2 linked regions of the Homo sapiens genome follow. The protein of the gene in region 1 interacts with the protein of each later gene in a biochemical or structural test. Each region holds a gene or a part of one and is shown on either strand. Other genes may lie near its edges. The genes, in order: ZP3 and ACR.

Region 1 (7,898 bases):
AGCATAGAGCCAGCACTGGAAACCCCTACTTTAGTCACTTCCTAACCACCTTTTGTTTTTTTGAGATGCAGTCTTGCTCTGTCACCCAGGCTGGAGTGCAGTGGCACGAACTCGGCTCACTGCAACCTCCGCCTCCCAGGTTCAAGCAATTCTCTGCTTCAGCCTCTGAGTAGCTGGAATTACAGGCACGTGCCACCGTGCCTTTTTTTTTTTTTTTTAAATAGAGACAGGGTTTCGCCATGTTAGCCAGGCTGGTCTCGAACTCCTGGCCTCAGGTGATCCACCTGCCTCAGCCTCCCAAAGTGCTGGATTACAGGTGTGAGCCACCATGACTCAACCCCCAACCACCTATTCTAAGCTCACTATCCCCACCTCTCATCTCAGGGAGCTTATTTAAAAACTACTTGAGGGCTGGGTGCAGTGGCTCATGCCTGTAATCCCAGCACTTTGGGAGGGAAGAGGATTGCTTGAGGCCAGGAAGTCACGACCAGCCTGGGCAATAGAGCTAGACCCCATCTCTACAAAAACATAACTTGGCTGGGCACGGTGGCATGTGCCTGTAGTCCATCCCAGCTATTCAGGAGGCTGAGGCAGGAGGATGGCTTGAGCCTAGGAGGTCGAAGTTGCCCAAGAGCTCAGGTGGCTGCCTGGCCCTGACCAAACTCGATCTTCAGGGAATAGTCCTAGACCTTATTAGCAAGTGCCCCAGCACAGACAGAACCAGCATAGCTCGTGGGGCCCCTTATTCAAAAGTTATTACCATTTCAGGGCAAGAGGGCATTCCATTAAGCACTGGGCCCCACAGAACTGCACAGGTTGTATACCTGGGAAACTGGCCATGGCTGTATTTTTTTTTTTTTTTTTTTTGAGACGGAGTCTCACTCTGTTGCCCAGGCTGGAGTGCAGTGGCACGATCTCAACTCACTGCAACCTACGCCTCCCGGGTTCAAGCAATTCTCTGCCTCAGACTCCTGAGTAGCTGGGATTACAGGTGCCCGCCACCACACCCGGCTAACTTCTTTGTATTTTTAGTAGAGATGAGGTTTCACCATCGTGGCCAGGCTGGTCTTGAACTCCTGACCTCGTGATTCACCCGCCTCGGCCTCCCAAAGTGCTGGGATTACAGGCGTGAGCCACTGCGCACGGCCAGCCGCAGGTGATTCTCACCGGGCAAAACTGGGAAACACCACACCAGAGGAAGGAGTTTGCAGGCTTTGCTCCTCATTGGAGTCACCTGAGATCCTTATTACCCACAGCTGGTCCCACATCCTTTCTATTTTAGCAGCCTGGACATCAGGATTTTTAGAAGCTCCACAGGTGGGGTTAATAAAAGAGGGTCTTGCTCTGCCTTCCAGGCTGGAATGCAGTGGCACAATCGTAGCTCACTGCAGCCTCCAAATCATGGGTTTAAGCAATCCTCCCACTTCAGCCTCCCAAGTAGCTGAGACTAAAGGCAGGCGCCACCACACCCTATTGTGTGTGTGTGTGTGTGTGTGTGTGTGTGTGTGGTGTTTGGTAGAGAAGGGGGTCTCATTATGTTGCCCAGGGTGGCCTTAAACTCCCGGGCCCAAGTGATCCTCCCATCTCAGCCTCCCAAAGTGCTGGGATTATAGGCGCCATTGCACTCCAGCCTGGGCAATAAGAGCAAAACTGTCTCAAAAAACAAAAACAACAACAAAAAAATACCACTTATCAGCTTCTAACCTATTAAAGCCCATTTCACAGAAGGGGGGGGAGCCAGGCACCTGGCTCCCCAAGTAAATCTAAGACATGTTTGTGAGCCTCTAAACTGGAATAATTCCTCAAGTAACTCCTGCAGCTCTCTGGCCTCCCTCCCCAGGAAAACAAGGGCCTCGAGTCCTCAAAGAGAGCCCAGGAGACCACAGTTAAGACCAGAGCTCTGGCCGGAGGGCTCCAGGGGCTGGACTTGCCCCCATCCCAGGCAAGCTACTGGGTCTAGGCCCAGGTGAGGAGGAGCCAGGTTCCCCTGAGGCGGGAGAGGACAGGCCCTCCATGGGACCACAGGAACTTGGTCCAGGGATCAGGGTTTAGCTGGGGAGCTGTGTGCCCAGCCCTGCCCTGCCGTAAGGCCTCTCCTTGCAGCCTCTTTCCCCACTGGCTAGGGAAAGGGAGGTCTGGCCTGGATTTCTTGGTCTTTTCCTGCATGTACCACAGGTTAAGCCTCTCCCCCTTGGAGCTGCCCCCAGGGACCCACTGATGCTTTTAAGGTCTTTAACACCAAGGTTATGATGCCCCCGCCCCCATACCACTTATCTATGTGGAATTTTTTTTTTTTTTTTGAGCCAGAGTCTCGCTCTGTTGCCTAGGCTGGAGTGCAGTGGCACAATCTCAGCTCACTGCAACCTTTGCCTCCTGGGTTCAAGCGATTCTCCTGCCTCAGCCTCCTGAGTAGCTGGGATTACAGACACGCACCACCATGCCTGGCTAATTTTTGTATTATTAGTAGAGATGGGGTTTCACCATGTTGGCCAGGCTGGTCTCAAACTCCTCAGCCTCCCAAAGTGCTGGAATTACAGGCGTGAGCCACCACACCAGGCCCCAGTTAGTTTTTTTAAAGGCTTAAGAGATGGGGTCTCACTATGTTGCCCAGGCTGGCCTCAAACTCCTGGCCTCAAGTGATCCTCCAGTCTTGGCCTCCCATAGTGCTGGGACTACAGGCATGAGCCACTGCACCCGGCCCACTTGTTGTTTTTAAGATAATGTATACTTTGGGTCTCTTCAGGATGAGTTCCTAATGCCCCCAGCCTTAGAAACAGCCCCTTAGGCTACCCACAGGGCTATCCTATCACGCAGGCCTGTGTGTGTCACAAACCCACCTGAGAGAGAGTGGCGTGGCTTGGGCCAGCCTGAAGTGCACGGCCACCTCTGGCTCCACCCCATCGACCCAATGTCGGGCATCAGAGGCAGGAGCTGCCCTGGGTCCGGTGACCTCAGTGCCAGCTTCAGGCCTCAACTGGGCCACCTCCCCACCTACAAGTGAGAGGGATCCACCCAACCCCACCTCCCACCGATGGTGGCCACAGTCCCCATACCCGGCTGCCTCGAACATCCTCCCACCAAAGCCAGGGCCCCCAGCCTCTCTTACCTGCATGCTGTTGCCACACTCGTGGAGTCCAACCTCAAACCTGACCACATCTTCTGTGTCCATGGAGACCAGAGGCTCACAGGCCTCTGGGCCCAAGGTGAGGTCAGCAGCCCTGATGAGCTTCCCGGTGCCAAAAAGGTCTTTGCTGACCATGACCATCAGAGTGGCCTCCTGACACTCCACCAGTACGGGCTGTACGGACGTCTCAGGATGGCTGGCTCCACCCTGCAAGAGCCAGAGGGGTTGGGGGTAGCACAGCTCAGTACTACCCCAGAGCAGGAGGCAGATGAAGAGCCTATAGCTCAGCTCCATGGTACCTGCAGAGCAGCAGGCAGCCGCCTCTGGCCATCTTATACCCGTGGGATGCTGGCTGCTGCCACCTGGGCTCTCAGCTTCTCAGCTGCCTCCCTTCCCTAGCCAGCTGGGCCCTTGTTGCATAAAGTGGTCTCCATCCAGAAGCATCAGTAACACCTGGGAGCTTGTTAGAACTGCAAACTCTCAGCCTTCACCCCAGCATGACCACAGCAGAATTTGGTTTTTAGCTTGGAAATCCCCCACGTGTATCCACATTAAAGTTTTTTTTTGCTGTGTGTGTGTGTGTTTGTGGTTTGTTTGTTTTTGTTGTGTTTTGTTTTGTTTTGAGACAGAGTCTCACTCTGTTGTCCAGGCTGGAGTGCAGTGGTATGATCTCGTTTCACTGCATCCTCCACTTCTCAGCCAGGTTCAAGTGATTCTCCTGCCTCAGACTCCCAAATAGCTGGGATTACAGGAAGGCATGCGCCACCGCGCCTGGCTAATTTTTGTATTTTTGGTAGAGACAGGGTTTCACTATGTTGGGCAGGCTGGTCTTGAAGTCCTGACCTCCAGTGATCCTCCTGCCTCAGCCTCCCAAAGTGCTGGGATGACAGGTGTGAGCCACCGCGCCCGCCCCAGCCCACTTGAAAGTTTTTAGCTTGTAAATCCCCATGTGTATTCATGTAAAAGTTTGCAAAGAGTGTGCTGCCTGCCTGGTGCACCACAATGTATCACAGCTTCCCTCCGATCCCCTGCTGGCCCTGCCCTTAGGAAGCTCGCAGCCCGGCAAGGGAGCTGTCCCAGGTCTGTGGGGGACACAGGAGAAAGCCCTTGATTGAAGAGTCAGGGGGATTAGATCTGAGACATAAGGAGCTCATTCCAAGTGTGAGAAAAAGGAGGCGGTATCAATTAGGAGACAGGAGGAATTTCATGGGTCTCTGCCTTATTTTATGGGAGGCCGGGGGGTAGGTCAGTTCAGGCAGAGGCAGCTGTGTGAAGAGAGGTGGAGAAGGGGCCCTGCGTTCTTCATTCCTGGGTGAATCCCCCGGAGTTCATACTGAGACACAGCAGAAGCGGGGCTTGGCTTCAGCTCACCCCGACCAGGGCATTCTTTTTTTTTTTTGAGACAATCTCACTCTGTTGCCCAGGCTGGAGTGTAGTGGTGCAATCTCAGCTCACTGCAGCCTCCGCCTCCCAGGTTCAAGCAATTCTTCTGCCTTACTCTCCCGAGTAACTGGGATTACAGGCTTGTTCCACCATGCCCAGCTCCTCACCACAAGGGATCCGCCCACCTCAGTCTCCCAAAGTGCTGGGATTACAGACATGAGCCACCACACCTGGCCCAACCACTGCATTCTTTCCTGCATTCCCAGTGATCACCAGACCCATACCACGATTTCACTGACATCATCATGTGGAAACATGCCTATTACTTAAGAGAATCCCAGGAACTGACCTTAGGAGATTCAAATATCAAACCAAGGTTGTGGAGTGTCCCACCTCAGGAAGGAATGCTGAACTGATTGACAGCCTTGTTGCCACCAGCCAGACTACCAGGTGGCCCATAACTCAAGATAACCATGGCAACCAGATAATGCCAACCTGCATACCTTCACGTGCTTTGCCCAGCACAGCCGGCATGCCCTATCCCTGATGTAAATTCCCATGCTTTGCCTAATAAAAAAGCCCTCCTGGCTCTTTTTGGAGAGTCAGATAGAAAAATCTCTATATCTTTCCCTCTCTCTCTCTCTTTCCCTCTCTCTCTCTCTTTCCCTCTCTCTCCCTCTCTCTTTCCCTCTCTCTCCCTCTCTCTCTCATGCTGCCTCCTTTATGTCTGGGCATAAGCTCCAATGAAGCTTTGTCTAGGAAAACTCGTTTAGCCTCCTGTCAATTTCTTTTCTTTCTTTCTTTCTTTCTTTCTTTCTTTCTTTCTTTCTTTCTTTCTTTCTTTCTTTCTCTCTCTCTCTCTCTCTCTTTCTTTCTTTTGAGACAGGATCTCATTCTGTCGCCCAGGCTGGAGTGCAGTGGTGCTATCTCGACTCACTGCAACCTCCGCCTCCTGGGTTCAAGTGATTCTCCACCTCAGCCTCCCGAGTAGCTGGGATTACAGGCACCCGTCACCATGCCCGGCTAACTTTTGTATTTTTAGTAAAGACGGGGTTTCACCATGTTGGCCAGGCTGGTCTCGAACTCTGGACCTCAAGTGATTCTCCCTCCTCGGCCTCCCAAAGTGCTGGGATTACAGGTGTGAGCCACTGTGCCTGGCCCTCATGTTAATTTCTTTTCTTTCTTTTTTTTTTTTTTGAGACGGAATCTTGCTCTGTCGCCCAGGCTGGAGTGCAGTGGCGCGATCTCAGCTCACTGCAACCTCCTCCTCCTGGATTCAAGCAATTCTCCTCCCTCAGCCTCCTGAGTAGCTGGGATTACAGGCGCCTGCCACCAAGCCCAGCTACTTTTTGTATTTTTAGTAAAGACAGGGTTCCACCATGTTGGTCAGGCTGGTCTGGAACTCCTGACCTCAGGTGATCCGCCTGCCTCAGCCTCCCAAAGTGCTGGGATTATAGGCGTGAGCCACCGCGCCTGGCCACCTCATGTCAATTTCTATTGCACTGAGGGCCTGAGGACCCATGGTTGGGGTAGGTAACCTGGTGAAGCCTCAGGTCCCTGGGAGTGAGAGTAGCAATTTAGGAGGCCGGGGAGGTGGGCGGGGCAGAACCCTGTGGGTGCCAGGCTGAGATGCTGGACTTAGCCCTGTGGGAAAAAGAGGCCATGAAAGGAATAGTATTGGCCGGGCGTAGTGGCTCATGTCTGTAATCCCAGCATTTTGGGAGGCCGAGGTGGGCGGATCACCTGAGGTCAGGAGATCGAGACCAGCCTAAGCCAATATGGAGAAACCCCGTCTCTACTAAAAATACAAAATTAGCCTGGTGTGGTGGCACATGCCTGTAATCCCAGCTACTTGGGAGGCTGAGGCGGGAGAATCGCTTGAACCCAGGAGGTGGAGGTTGTAGTGAGCCAAGATCACGCCGCTGTACTCCAGCCTGGGTAACAGAGCAACACTCTGTCTCAAAACAAAACAACAACAACAAAAGTCTACTGCAAGGGTCCTATCAGGAGATGATGAAGGACTGACAGGTACAGCATTTACCAATGGCCTACTCTATGCTGTCCCTGGGTGAAATTCCTGCAAGAGAGGAGGAAGAATACAAAAACTAATGGCATTAGCTGGGCATGGTGGCTCATGCCTGTAGTCCCAGCTACTCAGGAGGCTGAGGTGGGAGAATTGCTTAAACCTGGGAAGCAGATGTTGCAGTGAGCCGAGATTGCGCCACTGCACTCCAGCCTGGGCGAGACTCCATCTCAAAAAAAAAAAAAATTATACATATATATGTGTGTGTATATATATATAATTTTAAAAAATTAAAAATCTGCCAGGCATAATGGCTCACATCTGTAATCTCAGCACTTTGGGAGGCTAAGGTGGGAGGATTGCTTGAGCCCAGGAGTTCGAGACCAGCCTGGACAATACAGTGAGGCCCCATCTCTACAAAATCAAAGAAATTAGTCAGGCATGTTGGCACACACCTGTAGTCCTAGCTACTTGGGAAGCTGTAGTCCTAGCTACTTGGGAACCTAGCTACTTGGGTTGCTTGAGCCTGGGAGTTCTAAGCTTCAGTGAGTCATGATCATGCTACTGCATTCCAGCCTGGGCAATAGAGTGAGACCTCATCTCAAAAAAATGTGGAAATGGCGGGGCGCAGTGGCTCACGCCTGTCATCCCAGCACTTTGGGAGGCTGAGACGAGCAGATCACGAGGTCAGGAGTTTAAGACCAGCCTGGCCAATATGGTGAAACCCCATCTCTACTAAAAATACAAAAAATTAGCTGACGTGGTGGCACACGCCTATAATCCCAGCTACTCAGGAGGCTGAGGCAAGAGAATCACTTGAACCTGGGAGGTGGAGGTTGCAGTGAGCTGAGATTGTGCCACTGCTCTCCAGCTTGGGTGACAGACTGAGACTTAGTCTCACTAAAAAAAAAAAAAAGTGGAGACACACACACACACACACACACACGTGGAAATATATATGTATGTGTATATATATGTTATATATAGACATAAATATAAAGAGATACAGGGAGAGAGGGAGGATATGTATCAATCTTTATATTGGCTGAACCTGGGTAAAAGGTAAACAGGTTTCTTAGTGTTATCTGTGCAACTTTCATCAGTTTAATTTCAAAATAAAAAGTAAAACAAAAAATAACCAAAAACATAAAAAACTCTCTGTGTCAGATTCAAGTGAGACAGAAGACGATGCTGTTAACCAAGTTCCAAAAGCAATTGCTAAAACAAAATATGAAGTTCCTAGGTATAAAACAGACAAAAAAAGATATGTAAGATCTTTGAGGAAAAATTAACAAAACTGTATTGGCAGTCAGAGTAAAGAATGTCTAAATTTACAGAGGTATTCCATGTTCATGGATGGGAAATGCA
Region 2 (7,819 bases), on another chromosome or scaffold:
GAAACTTAGACCACGCCCTCAGAGAAGGAAATAAGAGTTAAAGGAAGAATCCTCAAATTATTGACTTTTTGTTGTTGTTACCCAAAAAAGGCTGCGTTTTAGACTCATATGACTGAATTGCCTTGAATTAAGAAGCCTCATTATCCATTATCAAGAAAAAAAGAGATTGAGATGCACCACTTATGGAAAGCTGGAAGTATAGGTCACATGCAGAGATCAAGTCCTACTGGGTCTTGTCCTGCTGGCAAAACCTTGCTGCTCACTGCTGCCATTTAATGGGGTCACCTGTTGCTTCTGGGATAAATGGTATCTCTAGTGTGCCTAAGTATGTAGGGAGAGGTGTCTGGGCGTCTCTGACCACGGAGTCAGTAATGACAATTTGTTCTAGGTCACACCTGGGGCCCTCCGTGAGCCTGGTCTGGTACGGAAGAAATTCCCCCTACTCTTCTAGAACTCATCTGGTGTCGAGTGTATCAGGTAGTGTTGGATGGGCAAGAGATCTTCTGGGAGCCAGGGGAGAGAGAGACAGCTTGGTTATGGACAGAGCTCTAGAGCGACAGCTACACCCGTCTTGAATGGAGAGGTACCTGCCGGACACTCCAGGAAGCCTGAAATACAGGGATGCCTATGACCCACAGAAAGCCACACCAACCACCGGTCCCCTTCCCAGTCTACAGAGCAAATGTCAAGTAACTCAGATGGAGAGGGTAGATTTGGTGCTATGACTGCACCGGAGGTGGCTGCTGATGGTGACAAAGACAGCCTGGAAGCAGGAAGGCTGGGCCCTGGAATCACAGGTGTTAGGAAATGGTCAGCTTGGAGACCATCTGATCCAGCCCCTCCATTTACAGATGAGGAAACCAAGGCCCAGAGAGTGGAAGGCACTGTCATACGGCCACATAACCTTATCTGGAGCTCTTCTCCAAAGGCTGTTTCAGGGTTGCTGCTTGTTTCCAGGATCCAGCAGCTTGGGCCCCAGGTGCCAAATACAGACACAGCCTCAACCCCATTCTAAGCAACGCTGCGCTCTGCCTGCACCTGCTGTCAGCCCCCCCGTAGACAGCCAGACGAGTCACCCATCACGTGACCTGGCACAGGGGACTGTGGAAGGCCACAGTGATGGCTCTACGTGTAGCGCCGTGAGGAGGATGAAAGCAGCCTGGCTGGGTGTCAACAAGTGACCGCTGCACCTCAAAGACCACCAGGAGAATGGCCAGCAGCGTCCCCCCTTGGAGGCGCTCCCATACTCACCTTTCTCTTCTATATATCCCCAGCCGGCCACCCAGCAGCTCTGGGAGCCTCTGGGGAGGCCTGCCTTAAAGTGGGGCAGGCAGCCCGGCCCAATGAAGCGCCCACACGAAATGGGAGGGGTGATCTCCACGAGGGCAATGTCATTTCCCTCTGTCGCAGAGTTGTATTTTTCATGAATGATGATTTTCTCCACATATCTCTCTTGCAGAGGCGCCTTTACTGGTTTATTGTTCCCATATGTAATTTCCTTTGCTCCGAAAACCAGTCTCCAGTCATGCACATTACTGTGGGCACAAAGGTAAGCCAGGTCACAACCGGCTGGACAAAAGCCTGGTGACAGCGACCCTCAGGGCCTTCCCCTAGCAAAGGTCTGGACCAGCCCCCGGAGTCTTGCAGCCACTTGGCCCAGAGCCCCAGGGAGACGCTGCACAGCATCCCCGGGGAACGCCCCTCTCTGAGAAGAGCCGTTCTGAAGACCTCCCTCAGTGCATCCCTACACGTACTTTTTGCCGACGAAGCAGTGAGCAGCAGTGAGCACCCATCGTGAATTCAGCAAGCTGCCTCCACATGTGTGGTACCTGTGGCTGTTGTACGTGAAGATCTGGAGGCTGACCATCCAGGGCCAGGCCCCATGCTGTGCAGCCTTCCCGCCGACGATGCGGACACCACCCTGTGGGTTTTGCCTGAACCGTAACCCACAGGGGCCACTGGGGAGAGACCAGAGCACAGTTCAAACCTGGCATGAGCACAGCCTGTCCTTGTAACTCCACAACTGAGGGGAGGCAGGGACATGGGGTTGGGAAAAGTGGGGAAGAGCTTCCGGGTTCTGGGAAAGCAGGGGCAGCCTGCGCTATGTAGGAAGCCGCAGGCTCTAGGAAATGGTTCTGGGGCCACGACTTCTCAGGTCTTGTGGGTGCAGTCACAGATGGAGAAAGAGGAGGCCATAGGAAGCCAGGACAGGCTGCATGGGCCCTGAGGGATGGCCCGTCCCTGGGCAGAACAGGAGGGTAGAGGTGGGGATGCGGGGCCTGGGGACAGAGGGGTGTAATGGCCTGAGGTCCTTATAACCAATCTTGGGTGGGAGACTCAGGGAAGTCAGGTGATGAAGGGGGTCGTTGACAGTGATGGGAGGAGGGATAGCAGCCAGGGGCAGATACTGTGGCCCACAGGTGTAGGGGGCACACTGAGAGCAGTGGAGGTCTAGAGGTGGAGGCTCTGGGAACTGTGTCACGGGTGGGAGGCCACATATAGCTTGGGAGGTGTTGGTATTTCGGGGTACCTTGGAGTGAGAGAGCCTACTGGGGGGTAGGGGTGCAAGCGGTGTGAAGCGATGATATCCTGGGGCTGTTGGGGGCAACCACGGGTTGGGACAGCTGTCTGTGGGGGGATAAGGGCTCCCAAAATCAGGACTTCATGTCTTCAAGACAGTGGGGTCAGTCCCTGGGGGAGTGGGAGAGGCACAAGGAGCCTGAGGTGCTGAGGGGTCCATCTCTGGAGGAAACCACGAAAGCTGAGGGTCTGGGGGCTCCAGGCTGCTGATTCTGGGAGCAGGGGGGGTCCAGGTTAGGGATGCAGCCTCCTTTTCCCTAGCCCTGGACAGAGGGAGTCGGGGTGGTACCTGCTCCTCAGAAGATCCTTCCCCCACCAAGGTGCCCCGACACTTACTCACACGTGGCGTTATCTTTAGCAACCACGGACACTGCCAAGACCAGCAGAATGGCAGTTGGTAGCATCTCAACCATACTCCTGGCACTGCCTGGCCTGCAAGCCTAGTGACCTCACAAAGCTCCGTGGCTGCCTGGCCAATCAGCAGGGGTGACCCCCACCCCACCCCCAGCAGTCAGGCCAGGTAAGAGCCCCTCGCCTTAACTGGTTTGTGCTGAAGAGACTTCTTGACTTCCTGCATAGGCTCCCCCACCACCAGGATGATGGGGGACTCCTGTGCAGCCCCACTCCCTCTGTCCCAAGGCCAGGATCTCCATTCCCAGTAACTCTTGCGAGGTCCCCACATCACCCAAGGCTCTGGCTTTGTGCAGGTTCAGAGTCTGCCTCTCATGCGTGCTGTGACCACTGCAGACTCACAGACTGAGGAGCGGCTCAGCCCTTCAGTGATGAGACGGTGCAACATGTTTGTGGATCAGAGGAGTCAGGGTCAGCAGATTAATTGATCCTTAATTGTTGTTGGGGAAGTTTTCTTTTCCTCTTCCAAGTGAATGCTATCAACACACTTTTCCAAGAGTCATTTTGAATTTTCCTAATTTACAACTGCAAAGCCCACCTTCCTGTCCGTTGCTGAATATCACAAGGTCTCCTATTATCCTGAATGTCTCCAGATCGGCTTTCTGTGACTGAGGTGGAGCAAGGTGTTTTCTCCTATACTTGAATGTCAAGAGTTTTCATACAGCTACCTGAATATCATGAAGCATCATTTTTCCCATCTGATCATCAGGAACTAGCATCTCACCTACCAGAGTGTGACAAATGCTTATTGCAAACACCTGAATGTTAAAACATTTCCCATCGCCTGCAAGTGTCAGGAGGTCACACTCTTACCTGCATGAGGGCAGCCTTACCTCTTCTACCTGAATGTAAGATCTCAACCAGCCCGAGGGTCAATAGGTTGCACATCATCTAAGTGGGTGTCAGAAGGTCCCATGCCTCCAACCTGAGTGTCAGGACATCTCATCTCCTATTCCTGAGTGTTGAGTTTTCAGATTATCAGATGATCTTGATTTATCTATTTTCTCTAACTGAATGTCGTACTTATGACATCCTCAAATGAATGTTCAATAGGTCTCGTATATCTTACCCAGTATCAGGGAGTGATCACCTCCTTCTTTGAAAGAAATAACAACTCTGTTTTTCCACTTCAGTGCCAGAGGCCCTCATCGCCTCCACCTACAGGTTAAGAATTCTCACCTCCACCACCCAAGTGTCACCCTGTCGCACTTTCTCTACCTGAAAATCAAGAGGTCTTACATCTTCCAGCTGAATGTCAAGAGGTTGTATTTTACCTATATGAATGTTCTGAAGTCTCCACCGGTATACCAGAGTGTTGGGAGATCTCATTGCCCCCATCTGGGTGCCAGGGCATGTCCTACCCTCTACTTGAATATAGTCTCATATCCCTGTCTAAATGGCATGGAGCTTTCATCTCCTCTGCTAGAGTATCATGAGATCTCCTCTATTCTGGGTGTCCAAAGTTCTCATCTCAACCCCCTGAGGTCTGGAGGTATTCTCACCTCTTCCTGGTTGTCTGGAGGTCTCATCTCCCTTACCTGAGAGTCATGAAACCTCCTATCTCCTATATGCCCTATCTAAGTCATGACACTTTATCTCCTCCGAGTGTCAGGGGATTTTTCTACCTTTATGTCAGGTAGCCCCACTTCCTCTAGCTGAAGGGCATACAAGTTCTATTTCGTGACTTGAATGTGAATAGGTTTCAGCTGCACTACTGAGTGTTAGCGGACCTCACTTATTTTAACTGAGCATCAAGTTGTGTCTCATAAATAACCAGAAAAAGACTTTGGAAATATGGTTCAAGAAATGGCAAGAAGAATTGAAGAAGTGGGCCCAAGTGCAGAGGCTCATGCCTGTAATCCCAGCACTTTGAGAGGGTGAGGCAGGCAGATCACTTGAGCTCAGGAGCCCCAGACCAGCCTGGGCAACACGGCAAAACCCCGTCTGTACAAAAAATACAAAAATTAGCCAGGTGCAGTGGCACCTGCATCCCAGCTACTCAGAAAGCTGAGGCAGGAGAATCATTTGAACCCAGAAGGCAGAAGTTGCAGTGAGCCGAGATCGCACCATTGCACTCAAGCTTGGGCAATGGGAGTGAAACCCTGTCTCAAAAAAAAAAAAGAAGAAGATTAAAGTTTTGACTGTTAAAGAAAATATTATTCGGGTGTTTTTAATGGATAGCACCTATTTCTTTACAAATATTTAGGAGGTATCAATAAAAAAGTCTGAAGACCCAATGTCAGTGTCTGGATTCTAGAAGACCATTACAGTTTGACTCCGCAAAGCTTACCCACTTCTGATTCTAGAAGGGGCTGCCAGTCATCGTGCCTGCCCGTGGCTATAGTGATGGTTGCGGGAAAAGTACCTGGCCCGGCCCATTTAATTTTGTCATTAAACTAATGGAAGCAACAAACATCTCAACTCAGAGTGACTTTGTCTGACCTTCTTCATGCTGTTCTAAGAGCGAAGGAGAAATGGGTGACAGGTCTGGGGCCAGAGGGTGGGGTCCCATCCGAGGGCATGGCTCAGGCTGAGGCAGAGTGCTCAGCACAGGGGGCAGGATGGGGGCTCCCCATCTCCCCTCAAACTCCTCCCTGCTCTCTGCTTCCACCCTGACCCCCAGGCACCCCTCCAGCTCATCCCAGCCATTCTCGCTGCTCCTGCTCACCCCAACCACCCGCTGCCTTCGCCAGCCGTGCCCACTTCTGTCCCCATGCCTTATTTACCTGGGCAATCCAACTCCCACCCCAGTTTTTCTCACCCTGATCTCCAATCCCTTCCAGCCCCCAATCCCCTACTTTTCCATTCCTGTCCCCACCACCCTCCGTGAGGAGCAGAAACCTTATCCAACCATCCTCAATGTCCAGCCAGCCAGGAAGGCAAGAAGATCCCAGAGGGAGTAAGAATGGTTGACGCAGTGAAACCTTGAGGGCCGAAAAGGGGTAGGTTTCAGGTCTTCACCCAGGGGAAGCAGGTGCCTCGGGGGTGGTTTAAGCAAGCAGGTGAGGGTCTGGGTGGCGCCATGGAGAAGGACGAAGGCCCTTTGAGGCTATGGTTGATGACAGCTTGAAAACCAGCCTCAGGCTGGGCAAGGTGGCCCACACCTGTCATCGAAGCACTTTGAAAGGCTAAGGAGGGTGGAGTTCTAGACCAGCCTGGGCAGCAAAATGAGGCCCCCATCTCATAAAAAATAAAAAAAAAATTAGTCAGGTGTGATGGCCCACGCTTGCAGTCCCAGCTACTTGGGAGGCTGAGGCAGGAGGATCGCTCAATTCCAGGAGGTTGAGGCTACAGTGAGCCACGATCATGCCCCTGCACTCCAGCCTGGGTGACAGGGTGAGACCTTGTCTCAAAACAAAACAAAAGCAGCCTCCATGTCCTGGCCCTGCCCCAAAGTTGTCCACAGGTCTTGGGAGTGGCTGGGGGGTGCCAGCCCACAGGAAGAGCAGAGGCCACACAATTTCAAATTTTCAACATTTCCTAATCCTCATCTTATTTTCAGATTAGAAACTGAGGCCATCATAAGGAAAGGGCTGCACGGGAAGTCAAGGAGGGGGGCCCTGCAAGGGTCTGAGTGTGGGAGCAGGGGGCCCCTGACTCGCTCTGGGCCTGAGTGTGTGGAATCGGGAGGGTGGGTCTCCCTGGGCTGCACATGGAGCCCTAGGCCTCCATGGGGACTCAGAGTCTGGGGCTAGTGGCACTTCTCCACGGTGCCACCGGCCCCACCCCTGGCTAAGGTTAACCACAGAGCCAAGGTATGCGATTGTCATTCTGTCATATTCACGCGCCTCCTCAACCCAGTGTGTCCAGGCTCTGAAACCACTGCCCCTCCTGTAAGCAACCCTCCCCACCGGGGACGTCACATCTCTGCAGCCCCTGGCCTCAGTGCTGGGTCCTGTGCCCTCTACTTTCTCACGGCTCCCTCTTGATTGCCTTTGCCCACTTGCCTTACTGTTTGCCCTTCAAGACATAGCTCACCACCTCCTTCCACTCAGCGAGGGGTCTCTGTCCCTCCTGTTGGCTGGCCACCCCCACCAGGTGCCACCCAGGACGTGTCTTTTTTGCCACATTATCGGCTGCTCACATGACTGCCTGTGCGCTCCTGAAGGACAATGTCTTGTCTCTGGTGCTCAGGGTGGGAGCAAAAAGGAAACCTCACATCCAACTGGGCAGACAACCCAAGGTGAGAAGCACCAACTTGCTCTAATTTGAGATAGCACCAGGGCCGTGCAGACGCAGAGCCTAACATCTAACTGGGACTCCAGGGAGGGCGGGTCAGAGAAAACGTCCTGGAAGACAGGATCCGGAGATCAGCCTCCAAGCTATGTATGCTTGATGCAGGCAAACGATGGGTGATCCAGGCAGAAGGAAGAGGGCATGTGTGAGACAGAGCCCTGAAGCGTCATAGCGGCTCAGGGATTGCAGGAGGTGGGGGGAGACTGGCGAGCAGCATGTGTGCATGGGGAGGGAGCAGGGGATGCTGGCAGGGCCACGGCAGCACTGGCTGGGCCGGACTGGCTCACGGGGTCCATCCATCAGCTGCATTTACAGACAGGCTGGTGTTTGTCAGCAGAGGGCAGAAATGGAAACAGAAAACCAGTGAATCAGCAGGGAAGGAGTGAGGGCTAAATCTGGTCTGCAGCCGTGGGGTAGGACAGTTGCGAGAGATGCGAGCGGGTTCCAAGACAGGAGCAGCAGAATTTAAAAGCAACCGGACGCTGGCGGGAGCAAGTCTTAAACCCTAGGCTTAAAACCTGGCAGGGGTCATGGAGGACAAGTGGCCTCCAGCTTAGGAGGTGCTACTCAGTGGGTTGGTGAACAGAGAAAA

Evidence for each region.
Region 2: the proteins of ZP3 (region 1) and ACR form a complex in vitro, tested with the Homo sapiens proteins (one study listed by IntAct).

The regions. Positions count from the first base shown.
Region 1 is NC_000007.14:76,420,485-76,428,382, reverse strand, and holds the start of ZP3 (zona pellucida sperm-binding protein 3 isoform 1 precursor), read right to left. Parts: upstream 3,434-7,898; 5' UTR 3,419-3,433; coding exon 3,107-3,418; intron 1-3,106. UniProt on the Homo sapiens protein: Component of the zona pellucida, an extracellular matrix surrounding oocytes which mediates sperm binding, induction of the acrosome reaction and prevents post-fertilization polyspermy.
Region 2 is NC_000022.11:50,733,410-50,741,228, reverse strand, and holds the start of ACR (acrosin precursor), read right to left. Parts: upstream 3,026-7,819; 5' UTR 2,994-3,025; coding exon 2,917-2,993; intron 1,959-2,916; coding exon 1,755-1,958; intron 1,536-1,754; coding exon 1,252-1,535; intron 1-1,251. UniProt on the Homo sapiens protein: Acrosin is the major protease of mammalian spermatozoa. It is a serine protease of trypsin-like cleavage specificity, it is synthesized in a zymogen form, proacrosin and stored in the acrosome.